Homo sapiens: one gene and its partners. The protein of the gene in region 1 interacts with the protein of each later gene in a biochemical or structural test. Each region holds a gene or a part of one and is shown in the gene's direction. Other genes may lie near its edges.

What was found.
Region 2: the proteins of DGKK (region 1) and RIMS1 interact in a test that uses a peptide from one of them, tested with the Homo sapiens proteins (one large-scale study listed by IntAct).
Region 3: the proteins of DGKK (region 1) and PTPN4 interact in a test that uses a peptide from one of them, tested with the Homo sapiens proteins (one large-scale study listed by IntAct).
Region 4: the proteins of DGKK (region 1) and SHROOM3 interact in a test that uses a peptide from one of them, tested with the Homo sapiens proteins (one large-scale study listed by IntAct).
Region 5: the proteins of DGKK (region 1) and MAST4 interact in a test that uses a peptide from one of them, tested with the Homo sapiens proteins (one large-scale study listed by IntAct).
Region 6: the proteins of DGKK (region 1) and PDLIM3 interact in a test that uses a peptide from one of them, tested with the Homo sapiens proteins (one large-scale study listed by IntAct).
Region 7: the proteins of DGKK (region 1) and SYNPO2 interact in a test that uses a peptide from one of them, tested with the Homo sapiens proteins (one large-scale study listed by IntAct).

The regions. Positions count from the first base shown.
Region 1 is NC_000023.11:50,460,131-50,464,557, reverse strand, and holds part of DGKK (diacylglycerol kinase kappa), read left to right. Parts: intron 1-4,427. UniProt on the Homo sapiens protein: Diacylglycerol kinase that converts diacylglycerol/DAG into phosphatidic acid/phosphatidate/PA and regulates the respective levels of these two bioactive lipids.
Region 2 is NC_000006.12:71,892,832-71,897,258, forward strand, and holds part of RIMS1 (regulating synaptic membrane exocytosis protein 1), read left to right. Parts: intron 1-4,427. UniProt on the Homo sapiens protein: Rab effector involved in exocytosis. May act as scaffold protein that regulates neurotransmitter release at the active zone.
Region 3 is NC_000002.12:119,955,111-119,959,537, forward strand, and holds part of PTPN4 (tyrosine-protein phosphatase non-receptor type 4), read left to right. Parts: intron 1-46; coding exon 47-213; intron 214-1,733; coding exon 1,734-1,824; intron 1,825-1,905; coding exon 1,906-1,967; intron 1,968-4,427. UniProt on the Homo sapiens protein: Phosphatase that plays a role in immunity, learning, synaptic plasticity or cell homeostasis. Regulates neuronal cell homeostasis by protecting neurons against apoptosis.
Region 4 is NC_000004.12:76,433,367-76,438,521, forward strand, and holds the start of SHROOM3 (protein Shroom3), read left to right. Parts: upstream 1-1,862; 5' UTR 1,863-2,686; coding exon 2,687-2,854; intron 2,855-5,155. UniProt on the Homo sapiens protein: Controls cell shape changes in the neuroepithelium during neural tube closure. Induces apical constriction in epithelial cells by promoting the apical accumulation of F-actin and myosin II, and probably by bundling stress fibers.
Region 5 is NC_000005.10:67,141,239-67,145,665, forward strand, and holds part of MAST4 (microtubule-associated serine/threonine-protein kinase 4), read left to right. Parts: intron 1-876; coding exon 877-999; intron 1,000-1,182; coding exon 1,183-1,295; intron 1,296-3,430; coding exon 3,431-3,558; intron 3,559-3,905; coding exon 3,906-4,141; intron 4,142-4,427.
Region 6 is NC_000004.12:185,502,334-185,505,434, reverse strand, and holds part of PDLIM3 (PDZ and LIM domain protein 3), read left to right. Parts: intron 1-848; coding exon 849-960; intron 961-2,951; coding exon 2,952-3,101. UniProt on the Homo sapiens protein: May play a role in the organization of actin filament arrays within muscle cells.
Region 7 is NC_000004.12:119,024,300-119,028,726, forward strand, and holds part of SYNPO2 (synaptopodin-2), read left to right. Parts: intron 1-2,327; coding exon 2,328-3,139; intron 3,140-4,427. UniProt on the Homo sapiens protein: Has an actin-binding and actin-bundling activity. Can induce the formation of F-actin networks in an isoform-specific manner.

The DNA.
Region 1 (4,427 bases):
AAGGAAATCTTTTTAAGGGCAGATATTCTCAAAAATCATAAAAGTTAATGAAATTTACGAATCCTCCCCTCTAGATACACACATTTTAATTAAAAAAAGAAAGAAATATTAAAGGATAGGTCCCTGACTATACCAAATCTCCAGAATTTTTAATTCCAAGAAGCAGGGGCGCGGGGGGTGCGGGAGGGAGGGACAAAAGAAATACCACTCCTCCATGACTAAAGAGCATAAACCTTATTCTTAAAATACAATTTTTTTTAAGATTTAAAATAAAATTAAGAATGGAAGGGTATATGTGTTGGTGAAGAGGATATTACTAATGAAACAAAAACAGAATCCTCTTAAAGAGAAGAAGTACTTCAATGTCACAAAGACCCATTAATTTTCCTGTCAAAACACAACCAAAAAAAAAAAAACCGATTTTTTTAAAAGAAGAAAAAATGAAAGAAAATCCTTCTAATGGGAGTTGACTCAAATTCACTCAAAAACTTTATTCTTTTTATTTTATTTATTTATTTTTAATTAATTTTTAACTGATGCATAATAGATGTACATATTTTCAGGGAACATGTGATAATTTAATATATTTATATAATTTACCAAAAGATTTATTCTTAATATAGAATTTTTGTAATTTGAGAACAAATAGAAAAGATAGGTAGGGGAGAAACACAAAGCCAAGAAAGTCCTCTTAAACAAAAGTATTCTCAGCCTCAACAAAGCCCCTTTTTTTCTCAAAACAAGCAAATACATTTAGAATTATGGGGGGCGGGAAGGGAAGAACATGAACAGTATATTTTAAAGAGAAATATTTTTCTTAAGGAATGAAGATGCCCCCAAACTCACCAAAGTCCTTGAATATTTTTCTGAAAACAAAAAAGAAACAAAGAGAAGGAGAGAGGGAGAAAGAAGGAAGAGAAGGGAGAAGGAGAGAGAGAAACAGAGAGAGGAAGGGAGGGAGGAGGGGAGAAGGAGAGAGGGAGAAAGAAGGAAGAGAAGGGAGAAGGAGGGAGAGAAACAGAGAGAGGAAGAGAGGGAGGAGGGGAGAAGGGAGGGAGGGGGAAAGCCGGACAGGTAGAGAGGAGAGGAAGGTAGGAGCAGGTAGGGAGAGACTGAGATAGGGAGAGGAAAAAAGAGGGAGAGAGACAGAGGAAGGGAGGGAGCCAGAGAGAGAGACAAAGGGAGAGGTGGAGAGGGAAAAAGAAAGAGGGGGAGAGAAGGGAGGAGAGGGAAAAAGAAAGGGGAGACGGAGGAAAGGAGAGGGAGAGAGGAAGGAGGATGGGGGGAGAAATGTGAAGGGAAGGGGAAAAGGACTAGGTAGGATAGAGTGAAGGTGGCAGAGAAGGAGGGGTGGGAAAGAGGAAGAAGAAAATTAACAAAGGGATTATTTTTTAAAGGATCAAAGAAAGAAATTCTCTCCAGGAAAATGCACCAACACCTTACTGCAGACATTGCGTATTATTCCTGATGACTACCCTCTCCATCCCCCACAATAAGGAAAAAAAAACCACACACACACAAAATCTCTTTCTCAAGCTTCTTCAAGGTGGGGAATGTGCGTGTGGGGGGGGTGGTGGGTATGTACCCAATCTCACCCTATCCCAGGGACCTTATGTATCTTTCAGCCTTCACTGTTTCATTAAAAAAAAAAAAAAAAAAAAAAAAAAAAAAAAAAGCAAGGAAAGGAAAAGAAAATCTTTCCAGGAGAGATGTCTCCCATTCTAATTTTTCCCAATAAACTGTTTCTTTTAAAGAAAAGGAAAGAAAGAAAAATCCTACTAGGGAGGGCTCCCCAGCTTCATTAAAACAAGTTGCCCTTGTAGGTCCTCTCCACAAAACCTATTTTTTAATGGAAATCCTCCAGACCTAAAGAGAGATGCTCCCCCACCTCCACCAAAAGCAATGAATCTTTTCCCCTGGAGATTTTTAAAGAAAAAAATCTTCCATTGTAAGAGGAGATACCTTCAACTTTACTAAAATCAATGGACTTTATTCCTCTCCACATCCAAGAGGAGAAAAAAAATATTTGAGGAAAAGGGAAGAAATCCTCCTAATCTAAGGCAAGTTGGCTATAATCCCTCCAACACCATTGAACTTTCTTCCTGAGATTTTTTAAAAGAAAAAGCAAAGACAGAAAAAAAGCCTCAAAAAAAAAAAAAAAAAAAAAGCACTCACTTCTCCCACAGGCTCCACAGATCTGAAGTGTTGTACAAAGAAAAGGTACTATCCCTCTCAAATGGCACCAGTGAACTTTACATTCAGCACTAAGGCTAAAGGATGATACATTTTAATCCCAGGCTGGCTTCCCGCTGCCCCAGTCTATTTCTGGTTACCTTCCCCATCATCCAGGTAGGCAACACTCCCAAGAAAGGCACTGTCCAAAAGAAAAAGAATTAGGAGGCAAACCTTCTGGGGAAAAATCATACCTCTTTTCCAAACCGAACAAATGATTTGGGAATTCGCTGCGTCATTGTTCCCATCTAACACTACAGAGAATTAAGAGTTGATGATAAACTCAAAAGCAGTGACACTCTTGCTATTAACTACCAATTAGTCAGACACCCCTACCTAACAGGGAAGGACCCTTCGCCAACTCAGTAATGGAGGTGATCCATCCTCCATTATGTTTCATTATGTGCTGGCTTTGATGTCTGTTCCTGCAGGGCGATAAAAGGGCTTGATTTTCACAAATCCATAAAATTTGCAAATCATATTTATAAGCAGAGAGACTCAATTAATGTTTTCCAAATTTTAAAATTCATTTATTTCTTTAAAACGTAAACTGATACCTGCTCCCTATGTGCTATGTGTTTAACATTGTGCTAACCACTGAGGATTCTACAGTGAACAAAACCACATGGATGAGACTACCTTTAAGCAAAACTGGTAAATGAGAGACTCAATTACCAAAACAAATATGCAGATGGTGGTTATTTGTTTTACCAGATGCTTTGCCAAGGTATTCACTATTAATAGTCAGTTCTCTCAGCATTCCTCTACTTAAACTAAAATTCAATGTAATAAAATAAAGGAATGCATGCTAATTTCAGAGAATGTGGAAAATCAAGAAAGCTTCTAAAAAGTAAATAAAAATCATCTAGTACCCCACCACTCAGAGATAATCACTGTTAATATTTTGCTATATTTTTCATTTATTTTCTCTGAATATTTGCTTATAGTCTTCTGTAGTAAGACTTTGGGGAATGCACAATTGTGTCTCGGGCTTCACCCTGCCCCAGTCACAGCCCCACACGCTTAATTATTAGATCGTGTTCATTATTCTACCTTGGATTTAGGAAACACTTGTTCATTTTAGCTTAAAGTTCATCTAGTCAAACTCCTGTCTGATCTGATTGTTAAACATATGCTTGAATCACAACCATTCAGGGGCATATTTGCTGTGTGAAGCAGTAAGTATATAGATTTTATGTAGACACAATTGTTGCAGTTGCTCCCATATACAAATGCAGTTTGATCTCACATTTACTTACTGCACTTTTTTGGACACTTAGATTTTATTTGTCCAGTTAGCTTTTGTGACTTGGCCTTGGAGAAGGAGATCCAGAACAAAACCAACCTTATCTTCCCACTGTTAAATTCCCAAAGGGAAAAAATCTAAATTTCTGAGTCACTTTTAACTATATGCCAAAAAAAAAAAAAATTAGTGATGGCTTTGTCTCTTTAACAAGAAGTTACAGCATTATGCTAAACTGGGTATGCCATACCCAGAAGGGAAATAAGAATATATGAGGACATTATCCACAATTATAAGGAAATAGAATATTCAATTCATCCAGCTTTCATTAACCAAGTGTGATCAAAACTTGAGAGAGTTAATAAACTGTATACAACCCAACCAAGGCTGAATCAGTAATTTAAAAGGGAAGTGTAATGCATTATTGAGTAAGATCAGAATCTTCAGCCTGGTCAGTAGCACTTCAGAGATTTTCATCTTCCAAAGCATTATAGGCATTTATTGTTTAAGCCTCTTGCTTTAAAGAGCCTGTAAAGGAAATATTGGCCCCTGAGGACAGGGATTCTTACCCCTTGTTTCCCTCAAGCACGTGTAGGATACTGAGAGATATGCTTAATGCTCCCCACCCACCCACACATCCAGAGCTTTGCAGTGTTCTTCTGAAACAAGAGGCAGTAGTTCTGAGGACTGAGCCTTTTCCCTGCCTCCAAGAGTAGAGGGGAATGAAAGTATGGCTTGTAGGACTAAATCCTGGATGTTCATTCATTTACCTTCTCCTGCAGCAAATGTCTCTACCTTTTCTCTTCTGGGATTTTGCAGCTTGACGCAGGAAATGAAAGGTACCTGCTGAGCAAAAATTGTTAAGCTCCTTGGCTGTCAGTAAAGAGACTTGAAACCCAGAAAGTTTTCATGAACTCTGGGCTCTGTCAGTTGAGCCCTCACTGTCCTGAAG
Region 2 (4,427 bases), on another chromosome or scaffold:
CTATCATTTTAAAACTGCCGTAGTCAGAAAAAGAGGTGAGTGCTGGATAGTTGGATAGAACACTGGACTAGATTCTGGTCTTAACATTATGACTTTTTATAGGTGTGAACATTGTCAAGATAATCCATCCAAGCATCAGATTTTATATGTAAAGTGGAATTTATAATGGCAGTCCTTCTAATCTGTGAAGCTTTAAAATGATAGTGGAGTCATCATATCCTCCAAATTGCTGTTTCCAAGAAAGGTGCCATTATTATGCTTATTTGTTAAAACTGTAGAACACCAAGATTATATTTTCCAGTAGTCTTTGAAGGTACTAGGGGGCTTGGGAAGATGAGCTCTTGGAGAAGAGCCCACCTATCCTTTCATGCTAGCAATGCAGTGTTGCCAGGGTTGCAGCTCCCAGTGTGAGAATTTGACAAGGAGTTAAAAGGTAAAATGAGTTCAGGGCTTGGTCTGAGACTATATTTACCTTCTTTCTTTTCTTTTTTTTTTTCCCCTCTCATTAAATAGCTCGTACATGTTTTTAGCACAAAAAGCAATGTGGGCAAAGTGATAAAGTTTGAAAGATCTAAAAGGCAATCCTAATTCAAAAATGAGAAGAGAAATTAGCTTGGGGTAATTTCCTCATCTTTTACAGAAAAAAATTTGGAGAAATACAGTAATAATTTTAGTGTCACTGGGTTTAATAAATTCTTCATTTTCAGAATTAGCTGAATAAGGGGTCATGTATATTTGTCAGGTAGTTTTCTTTCATGTCAGTTTACCATTGAGTGATGTAATAAATTGCATGTGTTTAAGAACTTTTTAAGATTCTTTATTGGATGCCTTAGGTTTTCTGTATTTATATTCTCACATTCTTACATCGAGTTTATATACACTTATTTTGACTAGATTACTTTTCTGTGGACAGCAAGAGGGGGTTATTCTGCAGAATTGATTTTAGATGTTTCTGCTTCTGTTGCAATATTGTGAAAACTTCCTGTTCATACGAATGCTTACTTAAAGGCAAAATAGAGCTGTTTAAAAGGAAGGTGACTGTACATGTTGATTTTCCTTTATCTGTTTATACCAATTTCCTGCTATTATTATGTATGGTAACCCCTTCTCTCAATTTTGAGTTTCAACCCGGATGACAAATTATATTGTCTTCCTCTTTTTAAATCTTGCTTTCTCTTCCCCAAATTCTTCATTTATAACTTCAGAAAATCAAGCAATTAACAGTGTTAAAATATATCTCAACAATAAGTAATGCAAGCAAGTGGTAGATATAAAATCTTGATCATTGTTTGGTAAATGGAGAACACTTTTTCTGAGAATGAGGTATTATCAGCCAGGCGTGGTGGCTCACTCCCGTAATCCCAACACTTTGGGAGGCCAAAGCGGGTGGATCACTTGAGCTCAGGAGTTTGAGACCAGCCTGGCCAACATGGTAAAACCCCGTCTCTACTAAAAATACAAAAAATTAACCTGGTATGGTGGAGTGCACCTGTAATCCCAGGTACCCAGGAGGCTGAAGCAGAAGAATCGCTTGAAACCAGGAGGCAGAGGCTGCAATGAGCTGAGATCCTGCCACTGCAGTCCAGCCTGGGCAACAGAGTGAGACTCTGTCTGAAAAAAAAAAGGAAATAAGGTATTCTCTTTTATGGAATCTCAACAGAATGATGCTTTTTATGGCAAAGCTGAATTTAAAATTTCAAAACATTTTTCAAATAATAGTAGTTATGAATTGCGACTTCATACAGGACTGTCTTTATGAGAATTCTCCTTTGAGCCTTGCAAAGAGCAGCCTGCAGTTTACCAAAGACATCTTTAATGTGTGAGAATTTATTTAAATAGATTTTGGGATGTAATATTTTGATATTCCTCTGAGTTTAGATGGCAAAATGAGGTAATGTTACAGAAAGTAATTGCATGTTATTTGTAATATTTTGATAATTCCTCTGATGTTTAGATAGTAAAATAAGGTAATGTTATAGAAAGTAATTTCATGCAATATGTAAGTAATCAATGCACTTAATTATAATATTAGCTATTTTAAAGCATAATGAATGAAAGATATTTTGTGTAATATAGAAAATAATACCATGCTAATGATTTATACATTATTTAGTATTTGTTTGTATTACCCATCATTATGCCAGGTAATTTAATTATCATCTGGAAGATGATAGTATATTTACATAGAGAAGGTATGTAAATTGAAAACCAATTAAGATATCTGTACTGTCATATAAAAGTCTTACACTACTTAGCTTCTTTTAATGGACTCTCATGCATAATATACACACTCACAAGTGGAAACTAATGTAGTAATCTTGATGGAGTTTTCTTGCTGTATTTGCTGGACTTTACATCGTCCATTTGATTAGTTCACAATTTACATACCTACATATGGCTTTCTGTACTTAAAGCAGTATTGCTTAATATTTGAAGACTATTTTTAATCTCAAGAATATATTTTAAAGTTGTAAGTTATTGGTGCACAAGCATTGTGTGCCATATTATTGTTTTTGTTGTTTAAACACAGCTTTTAACCAATGTAACAAGAAACTCTTTGAGGCCGGGTGCGGTGGCTCACGCCTGCAATCCCAGCACTTTGGGAGGCTGAGAAGGGCGTATCACCTGAGGTCAGGAGTTTGAGACCAGACTGGCCAATATGGCGAAACCCCATCTCTACTAAAAATAAAAAAATTAGCCGGCGTGGTGATGCATGCCTGTAATCCCAGCTACTTGGGAGGCTGAGGCAGGAGAATTTCTTGAACCCGGGAGGCGGAGGTTGCAGTAAGCTGAGATTGTGCCTCTGCACTCCAGCCTGGGTGATAGAGCAAGACTCCCTCTCAAAAAAAAAAAAAAAAAAAAAAAAGAAGGAAAGAAAGAAACTCTTTGATAGGATGTCTAGCTGCTAGCTGTTTTGTTTTCAATTTATGTGGTTTTTATTCTGGAAAAAATAGGCAGATTGTATATGAAGTACCTAGGGTATGTAAAAATCAATGTATTGGGTTTCTTTAACTATATGGTAGTATATATCCACATTTAGAGGTTCTATCCAGGTCAGAAAGATTACTTAGCGTATTGGTAGAAAGAGATGAAAACAAAAGTAAAGTAACCAAATGGCTTTTCCTTTTATATTTCACACAGCTTAGCAGATTTATCTTCCTTGGCTATCTCTGTATTGCAATATATTGGAGCTTAAGCCTTCTTTCCTAACCCCTTTGTTTCTGGGAAAAAATGAAGACATTTTACATCCTAGTATCTGGAATAAAGGGATATTGAAATGAACAGTCTCATTTATTTTAGATATTGAAATTTTAGTAAGATCCAAAATCCTAAAGAGATTCTAATTTTATATTATTCATGATTGTGACAGTTTTCATAAAAGTGTAATTTTGAAAAATAAAATACAGTAAAGTCTTCTTATATTGAGAATGGATATTTCAATTTACAGCTGTCTGCATACCCTAGGTCAAATCTAGCCACCTAATATATAGCAACCTGAAGTAAAAACTTGATGCTAGTCTGAAAAAGATATTATGGTCTAAGTATCATGCCAGACACAAGCATTAGAAAGGGATTTTATGGTATTTAGAGCTCCAAAAGCCTAAGCTTTAACAGTCACTATTGGGTACAACTATGATGGATAATCAGTCCAGGGGCTATCTAGTCCCTGACTTCCATAAATGCAGCATAGTTAAAGGCTATAGGAGGTCCACATGCAATAGAAGAGAAATAAACATGGTACCAGGCCACAAGAAGCAGATACTTTTGCTAGTAAGGTTGTGCAAATTAAAAAAAATATGACATACGCACTTTGGGAAAAGACTAAATACTCAAGAACACAAAATAGTGCAAATTGAGTGGTGGTTATGATAAGAGGTGAAGAATCTTTTGAAGCTCCCTCTTGCCCTTGCTTCTATAATTCCATATCCTTTTGATTTGCCTTCAATGTTTCTAAATGCTTCTATTTTATCTTCTCTTGAATCTCAGATGTTGGCGTTCTCATGGGGTCCTATTCTCCATATTCTCCCATTTTATATGCAGTTCCTTGTGTATCTCCGTCAATGGCTCCAACCATGTATATGTCAATGATCCCTAGATCTATATTACTGCATTAGAATTTACTACTAAATTCTGGATTCATGTCCTTAGCCACCTGTTAAATTTCTCTACCTGAGTGTCCTATAGGCACTTCAACTTTATTGTGTCCTGTTATAAATTTCTTGACTTTCTGCCTAAACGCAGTGTCTCTGTATTTCTTGTCTGTGTGGGTAGCATCACCACTGCAACTCCTCACTTCACCCATCATCAAATCCTACAGATTTAATCTTTTGGAATCTTTTAAATGTCTGTCTTATTTTCCAATCCCATTGTCATTACCTTAATGTAGGCTCTCTTCAGTACTTATCTGGATGCCTGAAGGAACCTCT
Region 3 (4,427 bases), on another chromosome or scaffold:
ATTAAGATTTCCACGTTTTGGGGTTTGTTTGATTTTTTTTTTTTAGCTGTATATGATGTAGTGGAAGAAAAGCTAGAAAATGAGCCAGATTTCCAGTATATTCCTGAGAAAGCCCCACTAGATAGTGTGCATCAGGATGACCATTCCCTGCGGGAGTCAATGATCCAGCTAGCTGAGGGGCTTATCACTGGAACAGTCCTGACACAGTTTGATGTAAGTAATATCATTATATATTAAAAGCATTTTGCTGATATTTGCTAACTAGTTTCATAGTTTCTTAAGTGCCTAATCTGTGCATTATAATTTCTAAACTAAAATGATATTCTGAGAAATGTTTGACATAAAGAGTTCTAAAATGCCAAGTTTTAAAAATTGCTCCCAAAATACTAGCTATGGTTATATAAATAGAATATGTTTTAAAAAGAGGGATAAGGAAATTTTATACATATGTCATCAAACTAAATTTTTTTCTATAGTTAAATAGCTGTTTTTTTGAAAGGTGGCAGATGAAGATAGGCTATTATATACTTTAAAATCCTGAGCTTGGCCAGGTGTGGTGGCTCACGCCTGTAATCCCAGCACTTTGGGAGGCCGAGGCGGGCGGATCACAAGGTCAGGAGATCAAGACAATCCTGGCCAACACGGTGAAACCCCGTCTCTACTAAAAATACAAAAAATTAGCCGGGTGTGGTGGCAGGTGCCTGTAGTCCCAGCTACTCAGGAGGCTGAGGCAGGAGAATGGCGTGAACCTGGGAGGCAGAGCTTGCAGTGAGCTGAGATCGCGCCACTGCACTCCAGCCTGGGCGACAGAGTGAGACTCCATCTCAAAAAAATAATAAATAAATAAATAAATAAATAAATAAATAAATAAATAAAATCCTGAGCTAAAGGAAAATAACTTTTATTTTTGAAGTTTATACCTTGTCATTTAATCTTTGTTTATTTTTCATTGGTGCAATCTTGAAAACTGGAAAAACCAAAACTTTCAGACAGATCATTATATCCAATGAACTAGAATGCTTCTTCAGTGCTTATAATGTGCATTTTGACCCACGATCACCCAGTGGATTTTGAAATGTTTTATTCAGACTATATCAACCTAATTTGTTTAAATTAATAAACCTGAATTTTTTTTTTTTTTTTTTTTTTTGAGAAGCGGCCTCTCACTATGTTGCCTAGGCTGATCTCAAATTCCTATGTCCAAACAATCCTCCAGCCTCAGCCTCTCAAGTAGCTGGAATTACAGGCATGCACAGCCATGCTAGGCTCCCTGGATAGTTTTTAATGTGTTTTTAGAAATGACCATCATTAATATTTGTTGTTCTGACATATATGTTATAGGTAAGTGTTTAACTATAAAACATTTAGGATATGTCTGTTTTTGTTCAAAAGTTCTTAGTTCATAGACTGTAAACACCTCCAAACTAAATGAAAGTTAAATGTTTTCTGCAGATTTGCTACTCACAACTTCAGGTGCTCCTGCTGTAAGCAGAATTGGTTTCACTAGTTTTACCACTTTTCAAAATATGACACATAATTTATGTTAGAAACTGAAGAATTCAGCTTTGCAAATCTGGTTCAGTACTCTACTAGACTATGGTATATCATTGTATAGATGACCTATTCAAAGGCAAAGAAACCTGTTTCCTGTTAGTGTAGAAACAAGTCTGGTAAACAAAAGAGAAATTGTTTATGGCTTTTGTTGGAATTGTACCTTTTTTTTTTTTTTTTAGCAACTGTATCGGAAAAAACCTGGAATGACAATGTCCTGTGCCAAATTACCTCAGAATATTTCCAAAAATAGATACAGAGATATTTCGCCTTGTAAGTATCTTATTGTCTCTGTTAAATTTAATCTTTTAAACATAACTTTACTAAAACATTATTTCTTTTAAATTTTTTTAGATGATGCCACACGGGTCATTTTAAAAGGTAATGAAGACTACATCAATGCGAACTATATAAATGTAAGTTTATTCTTATTATGCCTTTGCCATTTGGAAAAATACGAGCCACTATGAACTTTGAGGTTCTTTTTGTTAAAATCCTGACCTGGATAGAATATTAAAACTTTCAGCTATGAAAAATATTATTGAAGTAATATTAAAGAAAATATTTTGGTACTTGTGTATTAATACAGGTAGAGCAGTGGAATGGAATAGTCCAGTTCATAAATAGACTTAGATACTAGAATTTTGTTTATGGTAGAGGTGGCCTTTTAGATCATTGGAGATAGACTATCCAGTGAATGGGTGGTTGGGTCAACTGTCTAGAACAGGAGCCCCCAACCCCTGGGCCATGGACCAGTAATTGTCTAGGTTGCATGCTCATTATGAAAATCTAATGCCTGATGATCTGTGGTGGAACAGTTTCATCCTGTAACCATCCCCACCTCCCACCCTCCCAACCCCACTCCATGGAAAAATTGTCTTCCAAGAAACCAGTCCCTGGTGCCAAAAAGGTTGGGGACCACTAGTCTAGAATACGTCATTGTAAAGAGGCATTTTTTTTTCTTACCTGGAAAAAAAAATTACTATTTTTTTCTTAACTCTGTAATTAGAAAATTTCAAATGTACAAAATTAAAGCAAACCGTAAAATCAACCTTCATGTACACATCACTCAGTTTCAGCACTTGTCAACTGATGACAAACTTGGTTTCACCTTTACCAGGTTCTTTTGAAGCAGATCTTTATATCATATCGTTCATCTATAAATACTTTACCTCTACTCACTCTTGATGCCAACATGTATTTCAAATATATCAAAATGTAATTTTTAAAGTGGAATTATGAAATTATTTGAAGGAAATATGTGAAAATTGTTTAAAATCTCAAGGGGAGGTTTTTTAAGCTTAGATACATGTCTAAGCTTAAAGAGATGAATTTGACAAGGTAAAATTTGTTATTTTTGGTATGCTTAAAAACTACTAAAATCAAATGACAAATGGAATTTTTTAAATACTAGAAAAAGCTTATTTAATATACAAAGAGCTTCATAAATGAATAAGAAAAGTAAGCCTCGGCAACATATTGAGACCCCATTTCTCGAATAAAAATAAAAATATAAAAATATAAAAATTAGCAGTCATGGTGGTGCATGCCTGTTGTCCCAGCTACTCAGGAGACTGAGGTGGGAGAATTGCTTGAGCCTGAGAGGTTGAGGCTGCAGTGAGCCATGATCACATGACTGTCACTGGGTGACAGAACAAGACCCGTCTAAAAAAAAAAAAAAGAACAATGAAAATAATGGATGAAGGACATGCAAAGACAATTCATAGAAAAGGAAATTATGCAAATGACATTTTTAATAGTCATTTTTAAATTTATACAAAAGTAGAGAGAATAGTATAAAAGAGTCCCCCCATACCTCTTACGCAGTTTCAAGAGCTATCAACTAGTGGCCAATCTTAGCTAAATACTAACCTCCAAATTATTTTTAAGCCCAAATATATCACTGTATATGTCAGTTGAGTTAATTCTCACCATTCGATGTTGTCATGCTCTAGAAAGTCTTTGTACATGCTAAATTAGAGACTATTTAATCATTGCTTCTAGGGAAAATACAGGGTTAGGTTCCCCCAGGCCAAAAGTCACAACATTTTAATTAGCTGATCAATACATACTGTTGTTTCTGTTTAAAGACACTTTATTTAATATATAGTGCTGATTCATTAACATTTAACTCATAGTCAACAGCACTATAACTCATGCCTCAAGGAAGCTTATCTAACACACATATTTTCTCCATGAGGTATATCACATCCTTCTTGCACTTAGAAACACTAGTCAGCACTTTAAAACTACACTTGGGGGTCAGTTTTAAACAGCAAAATCACCAGTAAAAAAACCCAAAAGGTAAAAAGTAAGGCACTACATAGAATGCAAAAAGGCCACTTGTTTACAGTATGAGAGCTAAAACAAAATGAGTTGGTTTGTTTGATCTCACCTGGAAATGTGCATGTCTTCAGATGACTCAAATTTTTCACTGCTCTAAGTATGTCTACTAGATGACCAAGAAATCCCTGCAGCTGTTTTGAGGGTTATGAATAAATTTTAGCAAGTAGTCAAATTTGCAAATAGAGAATCCTTGATGGAGGATTAGCTACTTAGGAATATATCTCTGATAAGGCCTTTTTTTTTTTGGTAGCAAAACCACAATACTATTTTAACACTTAGAAAAATAATATCAGAGTTAAATGAAAAATACGTGCAGTTTACAAAAAGAAAAGTGCAAATGAAAACTTCAAGGAATTACTATTTCACCTGAGATTGAAAGAGCAAAAGTTTGGTAATACTACATGTAGGTCCACATCCTTTATGTGAAACCTTAGGTTAAATATACTATGGGGCCAGGCGCAGTAGCGCATTCCTGTAATCCCAGCACTAAAGAGAGGCATAAGCTGGAGGATAGCTTCAGCCCAGGAGTT
Region 4 (5,155 bases), on another chromosome or scaffold:
AGCTTTAACATTCTTTGAATCTGATCAACAGAAGATGGAGGAAAAAAGTTCTTCCAAACCTGGTCTATCAACTGCTATAGTGAAGGTCCACAAAATGAAGTTTTACATTTTTTTTTCAGATTACATATCAATTTTGGTTCTATGTTTGTTTCTTCAATATTTTTGGTGATAATCTAAAATGGAGATTTCATCAGTCTGCAAGCACTGGGTTCATATTATCTTTTCCTTATTTCCTTTGCCTTTAGCTTCATTACTTTTTTTGTTTATTATTTTTTAAATTGACAACTAAAAATTATATATACTTATGGTGTACCACATGATGTTTTGATATAAGTATGCATTGTAAAATGGCTAAATCAAGGAATTAACCTATTACCTCACATACTAATTTTTTTTGTGGTGAGAGCACTTAAAATCTAATCTTAGCAATTTCCAAATATACAATACATTGTTATAACTATGGTCATCATGCTGTACAATAGATCTCTTGAGCTTATGCCTCCTAACTGAAATTTTGTATAGCTATGTTACTTTTAATATTAAATGTGGATTCTGTAAAATCCCAGTTTTTACAAAATGTATTAGGAGTAACATAATAAGAGCCTCATAAATTAATTTTTTCAGAAAGAAAGCTGTTCATTTACCTAGGACTTTTATTTAAAATACATATGTTCTTTGAAATGAAAGAAAAGCTAATGTTTCTCCATTTATTCTAACTTACAAATTAAGCTGTAAAAGAAAACCACAATAGAAATTGCGTAAATTACCCTTAAGAATCAGCCAATTTTTACCACATACTTTCATTTGGTACACCTTAGGTTTCCTTATGTTTCCATTCACATACTACCATTACATAAGGTTTTACTTTTTTTTTTTTTTTTTTGTCTTTGAGCCCTTCAAGTGAAGTTACCATTGAAAATCAAACAATACCTGTCCAGTGTTGTAAATTAAATATCGTGTAGTTTGATATCATATACCTGCCTTTCCATATCAGCCTTTCATTAATTATAAGTACAAACACCAAAATAATTGTTATCAAGCCCCACAGTAGTTTTTAACTTCAGTTTTCAACTTAATTCTCATTATCCCATACTTTTAAACAGAAAAAAGTTTTAGTACATATATTACCTGGAAGTAATTCTAATCTGTTCCAATAACTAAATAGCTGAGGCTTCTGGGTTAGATATGGTTATCTTCTACTGTTCAAATTTTTAATACAAAGCATGAATGTTAAATTTGTATATAACATTATTACAAAATGACACTGGTAACATGAAATCAGAACAACATTCTTTCCCGAGTACCTAGTACTTACCCACAAGGCATTGTAGATTTCTTTTCATTTAAAGAGTGGATAACAATCTTGGAGTAGATAACAATGAAAACCTAGAAAAAAAAACCCACCTCCTGTTTTTATTGAGTCAAACAAGCAGAACTTTGATTGGAAAGTCCCATTTCATATATTACACTGGTAGTATTTTCTTCTAACGAAAAAAAAAAAGCCCTTGTGCCACCACCTTGACATGTACTTAAACGTTTACCCAAATCACTTAGGCATTGCTTCTCAAACTTGGCTGCATAGCAGAATTGCCTGGAGGGTTTTTAAAAACACAAATGCCTATGTCTCACTCCCTGAAATTCTCCTTTAATTGGTACGAGGCGGGGCTATTCTAGGAACTATTTTCTATCCCTTGGCAATTAGCCATCTGTATAGTATTTTTAACTTCCTACGTGTTATTAACTGTAAGACTGTTTGAATTGTCAGGTCTTTGTGGTGAGCTGAATTCTGCATGGCAGTGCTTACTGTGCAGAAAGGTTGCAATGCCTCACTTTGCCTTAATCCATGTTCCTCTAACTTCCTTACTCTTTCTCTCAAGAGGAGGCAAGTGGCTGTGGCGGCCGCAGCAGTGGCTGATCATCACTGAAAATACCAAAGAAAAGAACTGAGCTGCCTCCTTCATATTTTTTCCATTGAGGATTAATTTACCGTGCTTTTTCATTTTCTCTACATCCTGCAAAAGTTTTTTTCTCTCCTAAGAAACAAACTATGAACTGATTGTTGAAAAAAAGAAGTAAAAAGTTTTAGCACAGCTTCTCTGTCTCTTCGGGACAAGTTAGAAAATTCTGAAGTGAGCCGAAGCATAGTAAGTGCTTTCTTTCTTTTTAAGCTACTTCTGGGGAGGGAGGAGGCTATTGTAATGGTAAATTTCACTCCGAGAGGAAGAAAGGGTTGATAATCAATCAAAAATGAGGTATTCCTTTGAGTATTTGTGATTTTCTTACTATATTGTAAGATGCTTTTAATTTTCTCTGTAAAATAGGCAGAAATGGTTTTAGTGTGTGTATGTGTGAAATAAAAGCTCAGAAAAGCAATCTTCAGAGCGCCACTGAAGGAAGTTTTGACGAACGGAGTAGAGATGTATACCACTTGGGGGCTTCAGTGAGAACCCAGAATTCCTGGAGGAGGATTTACATTCAGAAATGTTGAAGTGAAAATTCCTTCTGGTTCAGCATCTTGGAGTTCAGCTTGGAAGAACATTTTACGTATGGAAGAATTTGCTTCTCCAAACCTCTCTTTTGGCCATTGTGTGTCCTGAAGGATGGGACAACTTGTGCTGTAGAAGCACTGCTTGCCTGAGTTTGCTTCAGGCATTTTAAATTTAACTTGAGGGATCATGTGTTTGGCATGATGAGGACCACTGAAGACTTCCACAAGCCTAGTGCCACATTAAACTCTAACACGGCCACCAAGGGAAGGTACATTTATCTGGAGGCATTCCTGGAGGGAGGAGCTCCCTGGGGTTTTACTCTAAAGGGTGGCCTGGAGCACGGAGAACCATTAATCATCTCTAAGGTATGTTTCTTTTTCCAATATTGCCTTTATTCAAATTGTTTTTTTCAACTTGTCAGATTTGTCAAAAATGCAAAATAATGAGAACTGCCTTAATATAACTTAATTTGCTGTTTCATGCCTTTCTGATTATCTAGAAATATTTTGGATAGCCTGGGATTTGAAAGAAAAATGTGTCTAGCTCATTTATTCTATGAAATCCGAAGAAAAATATGCCTGTTTGATGGATAATCTTCTCTTTTTGTGAATGAAATCGCATACAATCAGTTACCACATGAGCTTTTCAGTTATAAATCAGATTAAAGATTAATAACATGGTTAAGATGGTGGCATGGTATATATTTGTGCATTCAAAAATATCTGCTTTTTCTCTCTTCAACTGAAAATAGCATCTAAAAATATTTTAAGTTTGCTTATAATTCTGGATAATAGATTGCATAAATACCATGTGTTGCTTTTTTTCCCCACACTCAGAAAGGAGAATTAAATCAGCTTTCAGCATAACTCAAGATCAAAACATTTCTGCCTCTCCTATTTATCTGTATATTTGAATCCCTTTTTAAACCTTAGTCATCCTGCAGCATACCTCAATTCTTCATTTATCTTTTGGTGTGGGTAGTCATACCAATGAAATATTTATGTACTGGGGTTAATATTTCTATTTTTCTCTTAAACTACAGATTAACATTACTTGTTATAATATTGCTTTTAAATTTTTAGAGTATTTAATAGTCTGATACAATAGATTATAATGGCTTTTCACACATGTGCATTCATCAAGAAACATTTGTAATTAAGGGAGAAAAAATTTTTAATTTGAGGGTGGGAAGAAGGTAATATGGATTGCATTTGAGCTCTGTTATTGGTTCAGGTTACTTTTCATATCCCCAGAAATAATTCCAAAAGGTTATTTTTCAAATTACTGAAGTAATTCTTACTGTGGATGAGCCAGGGAGAACTGGGTTTCACAGTGATAAGCCACGAGTGCACGGGACACCATTATAAGTTGTATGACTTTTCCTTAACTTTCTTAAGTAAAACAAAAGGATGTGCATATGTGTGTGTCAGTTAGGAAGGCTTCCCCCTGTGAAAAAAATTCAAAACCGAGTTTATAGTGGCTCTCAGTAAATTGGGGTTTGTTTTTCTCATATTACAAGAAGTTTGGAGGTAGATTTTCCAGGCAAGGGGAGCAGCAGCTCAATAATGTGATCAAGGACCCCACTTATCTCTCCACTCTGCCATTCTTATGATGTTGGCTTTGTCTTCATGGTTGCATGATGGATCCCACAACTCCAGCATTGATTGCATCTTCATTCCAGACAGGTTTTTGGCTTTTTGTTTCTCATTAGACCTTTGCTTTCATCTCATTAACCAGAACTGTACCCTGTGCCTGTCTTTAGGCCAATCACTGGTAAGAAATGCCAGTGATTAATACAGACTGATTAGGATTTCTTTCACAGGTTTCTACAATAAGGACCTACTCTTCCTGAAGTCAAGGAATCATTGCCCACTGTTTGAATGATTTGAGGTTCTTTTTGCAGGAAGAAAGAGGGCATGGTTGCTGAATAACAGATAATTCTGCAATGAACATAAATATTGTCTCGGCATTTAAAAAGTCTAGTTGTACACAATTTGCCTGTCCCTTAATGATAAAATATTCTGTATCTATACACTACAGTATCTGACAGTTTGCTGACAGAAAGGTCTAATCCTCCCACTAATGAGCCAGCTTCTCTAAGCCTCCATTTTACCTGCAGAATGGGGCTATCCTACTATCTACTTTAATGGGTTGTGTTTAAATGCAACCATGCATTTAGGTTAGTGTCTAGTACACAGAAGGAGCAAAGATTATGATTATTGCTTTTCATTATTCTAGCAGACATGTGTAGTAGGAGACAGGTCTGGCTGCTGTAAAAAGATCCAAAATAACAATAATATAGGAATTTATTTCTCTGACATAACAGTCTGAGCATAAGCCAAACCAAAAGATGGCTCTATGATGTCAGGGACCCAAGTTCCTTCTATTTTCTTACTTCCATCCTGGAGTGATATCTCATCTTCATGGTCCAAGTGACTTGCCACCACATCTGCTTTCCAGTCAGTAAGAAGCAGGGAAGAGGGAAAAGAGAAGGCAATCTCCTTTCTTTCAAGGATCCAATCTGGTCCAATGTGCTCTGTCCAATATGGTGGCCCACAGTCACATGTGACTATTTCTATTTCAATTAAAGGTAACTAAAATGAAGTAAAAAATTTTAAACTCTGTTTAAATGTTCCTCATTTGCACTTGTTGCATTCCAAGAGTCG
Region 5 (4,427 bases), on another chromosome or scaffold:
TTAGTCCCTGTAGTAGCTTCTCAGAAATCTCTCTTCTTAGAGTTTTTTCAGGATTGATTCTTTGTTATCTCTCTCTTCAACAATATGTGTGCTGGTGGCAGGGCGGGGATCTGATTCTTACGCTATGATATTATAACATGTACCTTTTTCTCTTTATATGGGGTATGGTGTTCATATTTTTGATGACCTGTCCTTTAAAATCGCTCTTTAAAATTATAAACTGAATTGAAAACATTTCACTGAATTATGCTTTCATGCTGACTTGGAAAAAGAAGCCTGAAACTTGGAAATGGTGATGGATATTTTGGAGACATTAAAAGTCTATAAAACAGATTTGTCAGTTTCCTACTTACAAATCTGTAATCCACAGAATCTAATTCTTATCTATGTTAATGAGCAATCCACTAAAATTGAATGGTAACCCCTATAAATAATATTTAGGAAAAATTTATCAATATTCACTTTACCTCCAGAGGAAATGTTGCTGTGAACACATTTTGCACCTTGTTAGAATTTCTCTGGGTTTTTAATGAGTGAGTCTGCTGTGGGCCAATATTTATCTACATCTCCAGGTTCAGCATACTGTGATTTTAAGTGGCCACATCATTAACCTTTGAAAAATGGAGGAAGTCATGGAAAAAAACTAACAAAGAAAAACAGTGCCATAGCAACTGCTGTTAGCAACATCAAATCTCCTACTGATAAATTATCAGAAAAACTTGTGGGGCTTTGGTTGTAGAATGAAAAAGTATGATTTTCATGTCTGTATTTCTTTGCTGATATGTTCTCAAAATTGTTGTTAAAAACTGATGTTTGCCTTTGCTTAGTGGGGATAGTTTAACACTTTCCTCTCTGTCTCTACCTGCCCCCTTCCAGGTGGTGCATATGAAGTCAAACAGCATCGATTCTTCCGTTCTTTAGACTGGAACAGTTTGCTGAGACAGAAGGCAGAATTTATTCCCCAACTGGAATCTGAGGATGACACAAGTTATTTTGATAGTATGTGCTTTATCTGACATAAAACATTGTTTGGCCTTTACTCGATAAATAATTATCTTTGCTTTTGAACCTTTTCATATCTCTGAGTTCTTAAACATAATGTTGATCCAGAAAATCATAATTAAAATATCTAAATGTTGAAAATCTGAGTAATTGGACCTGTTCCCAAACATTTCACTGCAGCTCGGTCTGAGAAGTATCATCATATGGAAACGGAGGAAGAAGATGACACAAATGATGAAGACTTTAATGTGGAAATAAGGCAGTTTTCTTCATGTTCACACAGGTTTTCAAAAGTAAGTGAAATGTGGCATAAACATACAGAGTCTCTCTGGGAGGATCTCCCGCTGGCCAGATAGTATCCCCGAACAGCTGGACACTTACCGTTTTCCAGGGTTTGAGGTCTCCTATGCTTAAACTTCCTTTTGTTGAAGAAAAGTGACCTCCTCAACTTATAGTCTGTCCCTATCCCCTAGGCCTTTAGACTGCCATTTTACCTTCTCTCTTTCCTGTGAGACAACAGAGATTCAGATAGCTGAGACCTTGGGCTTACCTGAGCTCTGATCCCCTTCAGGAACCCCGGCACCAATATATTTCTCTCTCCACAAATTAAGATATTGTTTTCTTAGAGGCATAGCCTTGCACCCACAGTCTTGTTTTTGGAGTGTGTGACTGCTACTTATATGATGACCTTGCCTTGAACGTCTCTCACCTGGCTCAATGCCAGGCTGCAGAGGTATCACTCATTGCTTTCAACTCAGGATGAAGAGCGCGAGCTTCACTGTGTACAGAGTCATCTCCGAGGGATTACACAGAGTACAACAAAAGGAGAAGGCTCAGTCCTTGACATAAGCAAAGATACCTGCGGACAGTTGACTGTAGGATTGTAAAGTCTCATAACTGCCAGGCATAGTGGCTCACGCCTCTAATCTCAGCACTTAGAGAGGCAGAGGCAAGAAGATAGCGTAAGCCCAGCAGTTCAAGACCAGCCCGGGCAATATAGTGAGACCCCGTTCTCCACAAAAAGGAAAAAAAAAGCCAAAAAAAAAAAAAAGTCTTGTAACCAATAAACAGAAATTATAAGCCATATTGAAAAGGCAGTAGGAAGCCAAGCTAGAATCATTTAGATAATTGATGCTTGAGAAAGATGCCTTTTTACCAGTACAGTAAAAGTTAAAAAAAACAATTAATCAAAACAAAGAAAACTGATAGTACTGAGACAGAACAAGGCCCTAGGAAAAACGGAAATCAACCTGAGGGCACCCTACCTCCCTTTTGCTATTTTCAGTAGCTATATATTTTCTGTTGCCATGGCATTTTGCATGATTATTGTTTAGCTTTTCTATAACATTTAGTGATTTTAAAGTGCTCCGTAGCTTTTTCTAAATGATTACCTAGATGCACCTGCAAATTGGCCAGCACTACCCTCCTGTGTATGGGAATGGCATCGAGGTAAGGATTTCCCTGGAGAAGGTGGTAGCCAGTCTGTCCTAGAGCCAGGACAGAAGCTTTGCTAAGTGTGGACTCAGACCAGGACTGTTCTCTGGGCCATCAAAGACAACAATGCCAACCCCTAAACACTGCTTCCTTCTTTGCCTTGGTGGGTATTTCATTTTCCCACCATCTCCTTTTCTGTAGCCACTTTCCTGCTATTCCTAGTAGATTATAGGAGGCCTGAGGACCATTCCCATGAGAGCAGCAAGTGTCTGAGCAGGGCAGTAGGGAGCGCTTCCTGCCCTAGGCTCTTAGACCCCCATTTTACCTTCTCTCTTATGAGACAACAGAGATTCACAGATAGCTGAGACCTTGGGCTTACCTGAGCTCCGATCCCCTTCAGGAACCCCGGCACCAACATAGGAAACTGCCTGTCTATAGATGTGATTTGTAAGCGAAACAAATACCTCTGGCTCTTATAACGGAATATGTACTGCATCCTTGCCACACCACCACCCAGTCTTGAAACAGATAATTTATTCTTCTGTTTGCACTCAATTCCAATTCATTTTTCTTCTTCCCACCCCTGACTGGTGGCCATTAAATCTGTTTCTCTGTTATTTTCTTTTTCCAGTTGACTTCATGGTTAAAAAGTAATCAAGATGTGCATTGATCCCAAGGCCTAGAAACTCCACTGCATCTGTGGATTTTGTTTGCAGATACAAAGTCCGCAACAAGATATGATGAGAGGATGATGAATTCATAGCTCCCTATTCGTATATATGTACACACACACACACACACACACACACACACTCACTCACCCTGACCCTTCCTCTCTGGATTCTGGTTAACAACACTGGAAAGTACTTTCTGAATACACAATATTAGTTCAGAATTTAGTTATCCTCTCAGGTTTTTCTCCCAAGACTTGGAGTGTTTTTCTGACAAACTCTTTTTAGTAGATATTAATAAGCACCAATTATTTGCCTTCCAGGTTTTCAGCAGTATAGATCGAATCACTCAGAATTCAGCAGAAGAGAAGGAAGACTCTGTGGACAAAACCAAAAGCACCACCTTGCCATCCACAGAAACACTGAGCTGGAGTTCAGAATATTCTGAAATGTATGTGAAATGCCTCTTAAGTAATATAAGCAGTAGCTACTAGAGCAGAGTTTCTTAAACTTTAGTGAGCATCAGAATACCTGGGGGGCTTGTTAAAACACAGATCTCCCACTTCCAGAGTTTCTCATCCAGTAGATCTAGGGTAGGGCCTGAAAATGTGCATTTCTGACAAGTATCTAGATTATGCAGATGTTGCTGCTGTGGGTACCACACATTAAGAACCATTGCACTAGACATCTCTTGGTTAGGCTTATCCAAGTCCGATTTTCACCTGGTTTCTTCCAAAATTCACCTTTAACACAGTTTTCTAGTATGTATATATGACTTTGTTTTTGCTTTTAATTAAGGCAACAGCTATCAACATCCAACTCTTCAGATACTGAAAGCAACAGACATAAACTCAGTTCTGGCCTACTTCCCAAACTGGCTATTTCAACAGAGGGAGAGCAAGATGAAGCTGCCTCCTGCCCTGGAGACCCCCATGAGGAGCCAGGAAAGCCAGCCCTTCCTCCTGAAGAGTGTGCCCAGGAGGAGCCTGAGGTCACCACCCCAGCCAGCACCATCAGCAGCTCCACCCTGTCAGGTAAGCCCCGGGCCATAGTGCCTGCTGTCCTCCTCACCACACTAAGTGTCTCCTAGTGCTCAGTCCCAGGGCGGGCCTCGCCAGGCAGTAAAGATGGGTGTTTTATGCTGCTAGACTTTCTCCATGGCCTCAGTCCTTAGGCTTGGGACACGATCTTCTGAGAGCTAAGATCAGATGTCTCAGACCCCTCCTCAGTGCTCGGCCATGCAGCAAACTGTTATTGCTTCCGTTTGACCTTGGGGCCAAACTTCACTTTCTCAGCCAGGTTGCAGGGGATCTTTTGAGG
Region 6 (3,101 bases), on another chromosome or scaffold:
GGCCAGGCTGGTCTCGAACTCCTGACCTCGTGGTCCACCCGCCTCGGCCTCCCAGAGTGCTGGGATTACAGGCGTGAGCCACCACGCCCAGCCTGTATGCCAGCATTTATCTTATTCACAATAGCCCAAAGAGGGAAAACACCCAATGTCCATTGACTGATGAATGGATAAGCAAAATGTAGTATACACATACAATGAAATAGTATTCAGTCTTCAAAGAAATTAAATTCTGACACACGGCGCACCATGAATGAACTTTGCAAACATTATGTGAAGTGAAAGAAGCCAGACACAAAGAGGCAAATATTGTATGATTCCATTTATTTGAGAGATCCAGAATAGGCAAATCCAAGAGACAGAAAGTAGAATGAAAGTTACCAGGGGCTATGAGCAGGAGCACGGGGAGTTACTGTTTCATGGGTGGGGAGTTACTGTTTCATGGGTACAGAGGTTCTGTGAGGTGAAGAAATAGTTCTGGAGGTGGATATTGGCAGTGCTTGCACAACATTTTGGATGTACCTAATGTCATTGAATTGCACCCCTAACCATGGTGAAAATGGTAAATTTTATGTATATTTTGCTACAATAAAAAATAATAATGCCCTCTGCTCCTTTGAGCGTTTTTGTAACAGTTTCCTCCAACCACAACAAAATAAATGTTTTCACTAATTCCATTCTATAATGCCCTATTTCAGAACAGCGTCCCTTATGATTGCATCAGTCCTGCCCCTCTCGGAATGACGGTGCAGATGCAACTTCAGGTTAAAGTGCACACTTTAAAATAGAAGCCAAGCACAGGCTGCGGCCAGCTGTTCCCTAGCCATAAATGGAAACGCTTTGTTTTTCAGATGACCGTCCGGCTGGAACGCGGAGTGTGAGAGCTCCGGTGACGAAAGTCCATGGCGGTTCAGGCGGGGCACAGAGGATGCCGCTCTGTGACAAATGTGGGAGTGGCATAGTGTAAGTTTCACTTTTAACCCTGGAATTTACGATACAGCTTGGCGACAGTTCATTTCTTCTCCTTTAAGACTTTATAGACTAAAGGCAACTGTGAAAACCAAATTTCTATTCATCAACTTGAAACGTAAGGTCCCCAACATTTAGCACATTGTGACTGTCACTCCTTAGATATACCTCCAAATTGTCACATCACATGAGTCAGCAATTTTGACTTACAATTTCAGATAGATTCTCATGAAAAAAAAAAGATGCCCAAATGTATGTTGAAAAGTCACGTCTAAGAATCAAGACTTCACTTTAAACTCCCCCACCCCTGTTAACGTATAGTGTTTAGTAAATGCATACATGAACTGTGTATACATTTAGTATACATAGTATCCTCCTCTGTATAAACACAGGGAAACAAATACAGGCAACAGGATGTTACTTAAAATACATTATCCTTACCCAGTGTAAGTTACACAAATGTTGAAACAAAATATTGAAAAACTGTCAGCTTCCATTACAAGGGAACTTTTATTTATTCAGAGATAGAGCCCTGCTCTGTCACCCAGACTGGAGTGCAGTGGCGCAATCTTGGCTCACTGCAAGCTCCACCTCCCAGGTTCAAGCGATTCTCCTGCCTCAGCCTCCCCAGTAGCTGAGATTACAGGGACCCACCACCACACCTGGCTAATTTTTGTATTTTTGGTAGAGAGGGGGTTTCACCGTGTTGGCCAGGCAGGTCTCAAACTCCTGACCTCAGGTGATCCACCCGCCTCGGCCTCCCAAAGTGCTGGGATTACAAGTGTGAGCCACCGTGCCCGGCAGGGACCTTATGTTTAAATAGCCACACTTGCTAGTGCAGGATCAAGTCAACCAAGATAATTCTAACATCTCCATGGCATTCGTGCCATGTGGCCACGTCCCCATTCCCTTATTCCATTCCTCCTGCCATGAACTCACACACTGATGTGTCCTCTGTCCGGTTAGCCAGGATACATCCCAAGAAGGCAGTGGGGGATAAGCCTGGTTAGGGCAAAAGGAGGAACGTGAGACCAAAAGGTCAAAGCAGGGCAGGGAGCTCGGAGCAGAGAGGCCCTCAGTAAAATACAACAGTGCCTGACGTTACCAGAAGCAATCATTGTGCCTAAGTTGGAATAAACTGTTCACAGTAGAAGCCAATCCACCCACCCCAAAGGAATTCCATCTCTGCTGTTTGATCTGGTTTTTTGTTTTGTTTTGTTTTTGTTGTTATTGTTGTTGTTGTTTTTGAGACAGTCTCGCTCTGTCGCCCAGGCTGGAGTGCAGTGGCGCGATCTCGGCTCACTGCAACCTCCGCCTCCCGGGTTCACACCATTCTCCTGCCTCAGCCTCCCGAGTAGCTGGGACTACAGGTGCCCACGCCCGGCTAATTTTTTTGTATTTTTTTAGTAGAGATGGGGTTTCACCGTGTTAGCCAGGATGGTCTCGATCTCCTGACCTTGTGATCTGCCCGCCTTGGCCTCTCAAAGTGCTGGGATTTCAGGCGTGAGCCACCACGCCCGGTCGTCTTTGATCTGTTTTCTCTTGCTCCATTGAATAGAGGCTGGACCACGCAGACGGAAAGCAATCAGAGAGACTCTTCATTGGGTAGACAACCACCCCCGTCAAAAGCAGAATCTTTTGCAGAGGGGTTGGTCTTGTCTCCATCATGTCTCCCTCTTCAAAGAAACGATGGGGAAAGATCATGAAGTAGGATCCTACAAATTTTCTATAAAGTACTTGTTTGAAAATCTGAAAAATAGTCACACGTCAACATCAGAGAGAAACACGGGATGGTTTATTGTGGATATCCTAGATCTCCATGACAATTACATACAGTTTCACGGCTGTGCCTGCTTTCACAGCTGGAGGCCATTGTTTCCTGACTGTGAAATAGAGAACATCTGCCTTCTCTGTTGGGTTCTCTCCTTTGTCTCATATTTTTGCTCTGTGGTTTTTTAACTTGAGCTCGTTTTCTTCCCCAACAGCGGTGCTGTGGTGAAGGCGCGGGATAAGTACCGGCACCCTGAGTGCTTCGTGTGTGCCGACTGCAACCTCAACCTCAAGCAAAAGGGCTACTTCTTCATAGAAGGGGAGCTGTACTGCGAAACCCACGCAAGAGCCCGCACAAAGCCCCC
Region 7 (4,427 bases), on another chromosome or scaffold:
ATTTTGCAACGGAAGCTCTGGCTATTGCATGATAATGAATCCAGAAAGGAAAGCTTTGGCTTCCTGGAGAGCAGCTTTTAGGAAGATGTCAGAGGACATCTCAAGATGAACCTCAAGGTCCTCCAGGTTTTTCCTCAACTCTGCAGAAACACTACGCACAGTTACCCCTCTGCTAATCATTCAGTATGATTCTGTTCCGGGATGAAAATGAACTCACTATGGCCAAAATCTTGAGACAACAATGGAAATCTAGCATTATTCTTATAATCTAAATATTTACCCATCAAACTCAGTGTTTAAGGCCTTAGAATCCTTCCTTCATGTTATGAAGAGAAAATAAGTTTATAAAATACATAATTTACTAATACATAATTAAATTTATAAAATAAAAAAAATTACAAAGTAAGTAACTAATTGGTAGGATTCAAAGTGGAATCTCAATTGAAAATCAAGTCAAAAGCAATTATTATCATCACCACCACTACCACTATTTTAAATATCTGAATATTGTTTCCTGCAATAAATATTTCTGTCACTCATATCACTGTCATCTATCAGTAGAGGACAAGTGTTTTTACTTTTCCTGAACTATTGCCCAGAGATAGCTCAGTAAGACTATTTTAAAATAACTCCTTTAACATTCCATCTCTATTATCTTGAATGTTCTTAAAATAAGATTTTAAAAATTCTATAATTGTGACACATAAATTGTGGACTTGATGAATACCTATGTAGACTGATGGGAAATGAATGTTTTAAGGCATAAAGCTTTATTCGCTCATGCTTTTATGATATTTACTCATGTCTATTTATTTTACTTCAGCTGCTGATAAATGTTAATATTTATCTGGCCATTTGTCTGTATTGGTCTACAAGGCTGGCATGAATTGAAACTATTCTCTTCTCAGCTTCACAATTGATTGCTAACGTTATTCAAAGTGATTTAATCTACTTCCATCCCAAGGCCTTCCTAAATTAAAACTCTCTGACCTTTTGGTACCCTCAAATTCAGTTTAACAATGTATTTAACATTTTCTACATAATAATGATCTAATTTGCTAACATCATGCTTTTTTAATACGATATTATAATGTTGTATAAATACTGTATTACAGGGAAGCTTTTCCAATTACTTGCGTATAGAGAAAGGTGCATTTTGTTTAACTGTTAGTTTGTTTTCATTTTGTTTAGTTTTGTTTTGCCAAATGCAGTTGAAAGCAAAGGTAGGAGTAAGTATTTTGAGCATTGGTCGGAAATTGCACTACCACATAAATTCTAAGGTAAATTCCTTTGAGTAGAATCCAAGTAGAAGCTCACGCCCTTCAGCTGACGTGCCTGCATGAGTCATAACTGTCTTTTAAGGAAGGAGGAAAGGGGCAAAGATAATTATGCTGCTTCCAAAATTAAAAAAAATACAAATATAAAAAATGAAGGCATTTCCTACAGCTGTTCTGTGAATAATACCTCTAAAAACATTTACAGTTTAAATTAGAGTTTCAGAAAGAAGTTATTTAACTCTTAAACTGACATTGCTTCTTCTCAGAAACCCAAATTTGCACAGACAACTGGGAAGATCAAAATCAAAGAGCTGTGGTGTACAGCTCTAGGCTCCTTAGCTGAGAGATAAAGGAACAGTTTGACTTCAGATATCCTAAAAAGAAAATGCTCCAAGAAACAGATCCAAATAGAAGAAAGGGAGACATCTCAGATTATAAATACTCCATGACTTAATGATTCATTGCAGCACGGAAAGGATTTCTCTTTACGCAAGAGTACTGGGCTGGGTCCACTTATTACGAAACACATGCTCACTGGGGCTTAAAAAACAGCTTCTATTTCATTCCTTTCAAGAAAGCACAGCCTCTAAAAGGACTAGTTGAGTTATCTGTAAGTTAAGATTGATCTGAAGGTGCTGGATATGTTTATGTGACTTCATAATGTCTAGACCAAAACTTAGTCAATAAGACATTGAAATGCTTTGTCACATTCTAGCAAACTCATTATAAGAGATACCCAGATTCCAAGTACTTACAGATAAACGGGATCCATGTAGTTTTTTAAAAATAAAAGCTGAATTTAGGATGGATTCAGGTTTCATAATCTTGTGTAAGAGTTTCTTTGTGCTTTTAAAAAAGTTTATTTGGTATCTCTTTAAGTAATAATATGAACATGTTGCCACCTTCTGTTTTCAAATATGTTGCAACTGACATTTAGAAGAAAATATTTTGACTATATCACATATTAGACATCACAAAAGTGTCAGGAAGTTCTTTGGCAGATGTAACATAGTCTGATTTAAGTGTCTGGAATGATTTTTCTGTGTGCAGACCATCCAGTGGAATAAGTGAGGCTTTGATATCTGAAAATGAAAACAAAAACCTCGAGCATCTCACACATGGGGGTTATGTGGAAAGTACCACCCTGCAGATTCGACCGGCCACAAAGACCCAGTGCACAGAATTCTTCCTCGCCCCTGTCAAGACTGAAGTTCCCCTAGCTGAGAACCAAAGAAGTGGTCCCGACTGTGCAGGCAGCTTGAAAGAAGAAACAGGCCCGAGCTACCAAAGGGCTCCCCAAATGCCTGACTCCCAAAGAGGACGCGTGGCAGAAGAGCTGATCTTAAGGGAGAAGGTAGAAGCGGTACAGCCTGGGCCTGTGGTTGAGCTGCAACTGTCCCTTTCACAGGAGAGACATAAGGGCGCTAGTGGCCCTTTAGTGGCTCTCCCGGGAGCTGAAAAATCTAAGTCTCCTGACCCAGACCCTAACTTGTCACATGACAGGATTGTCCACATAAATTCGATCCCTACTAATGAGAAAGCAGACCCTTTCCTGAGGTCCAGCAAGATAATCCAGATCTCCAGTGGCAGAGAGTTGAGAGTGATCCAGGAAAGTGAAGCAGGAGATGCGGGACTGCCCCGGGTGGAAGTGATCCTCGACTGCTCTGACAGGCAGAAGACAGAAGGGTGCAGGCTTCAGGCAGGAAAGGAGTGTGTGGATTCTCCAGTGGAAGGAGGGCAGTCAGAAGCACCTCCTTCTCTGGTATCCTTTGCCGTCTCATCAGAAGGCACAGAGCAGGGAGAAGATCCACGCTCGGAAAAAGATCACAGCAGACCTCACAAGCACCGAGCGCGGCATGCACGTAAGTTCTGCCTGGGCTTTCAGAAGGGGCTTGGGAGTTGGGGGCATTTTGCTGCTTCTTTGCTTGCATGAGTTTTTCAGCAAGATTTTTCTTATGTTTCTCATTGGCTTAAAGAAATATTTAATTAATGCACAAAATCACAAATGTGAAATTGTGGAGAATACCAATTTCTAAATAGGAAGCAATAAGTCCGAACTTCATATAGATTTAAACATTTTTCATGAATTTCTTTTTATCCCCAAAGGCACAGGAACTGTTAAAGAAAATAATATTGTCAATGTGCCTGTTCATTTTGTTTCAGACAGTTGAAATAGTTCATGTTAAAATAGCATAAGAAAGCACTTGAAGTCATGTGGACTCAGTTTAAATGTCAAAAACTGTTGAGTCTGCTACTGAGAGGTGTCTTTAAAATAAAAGCTCTACCATTGATATCAAAAGCAGATCCTTGTTTTGAAAAAAAATCATTGTGCAGCTTGATGATGCTTGCAGAAGTGAGTTTGACAGACAAGGACATGTGTATACTGAGCAGTTACATGATCCTCTCCGTTGTGTAAGTCTTCATTTGACTGCAAAGTGTTTCATCTACCTTCTAGACACAGAAGTCAGTCTCCAGGGCCATGTGGAGGCATTTAAATGTCTCCAAACATAAAATATATTTAAATTCAGTGCTTTGTATGGCATTTTGTTTTACCCAGGGGAGAGAAGACAGAAAGGAGAATTGGGATAAGAATTGCAGTTAGGTGTTAGGATTTCTATTGTTTTATTTCACGTTTATTTTTGTTTGTTTTTTTTTTTTTTTTTACTAATTTTGGAATTTTATTTGAGGATGTAAAGGCTGACAGGCAAAGGCACTTGACTGTATATATGATACACAATGGCAATGAATTCGGTTATTCAAAGTAGGATATTAAGTCTTCTAACCTATTGTTATTCCTTTCAAAGCATATTTTTAGCATAACCATTTGTAGCTTTATTGGCAAGTGCTGTTAATCATTCCTTATACTTTAAGCATCTGTAGGCCATCTTCACATTTATAGCATATTAAACAAGAGTATTGAGACACCATTCACATACTTTACATGTTGGCAGTGAAGTTAGCAGCAACTGTGCAACTGTGACTGTCAATTTAATAAGTTGTATAACACTAGTCAAAAAAGGAATTCTATTTAGTAATAACCACAGTTTCAACTATTTTTCTCTAGAAAATTCGATCACCAGTAAATGCCTGTAATCATATTATAAAATTATTTCCTTGGATTATATTTTATTTAAAAAAAATTAACCATTA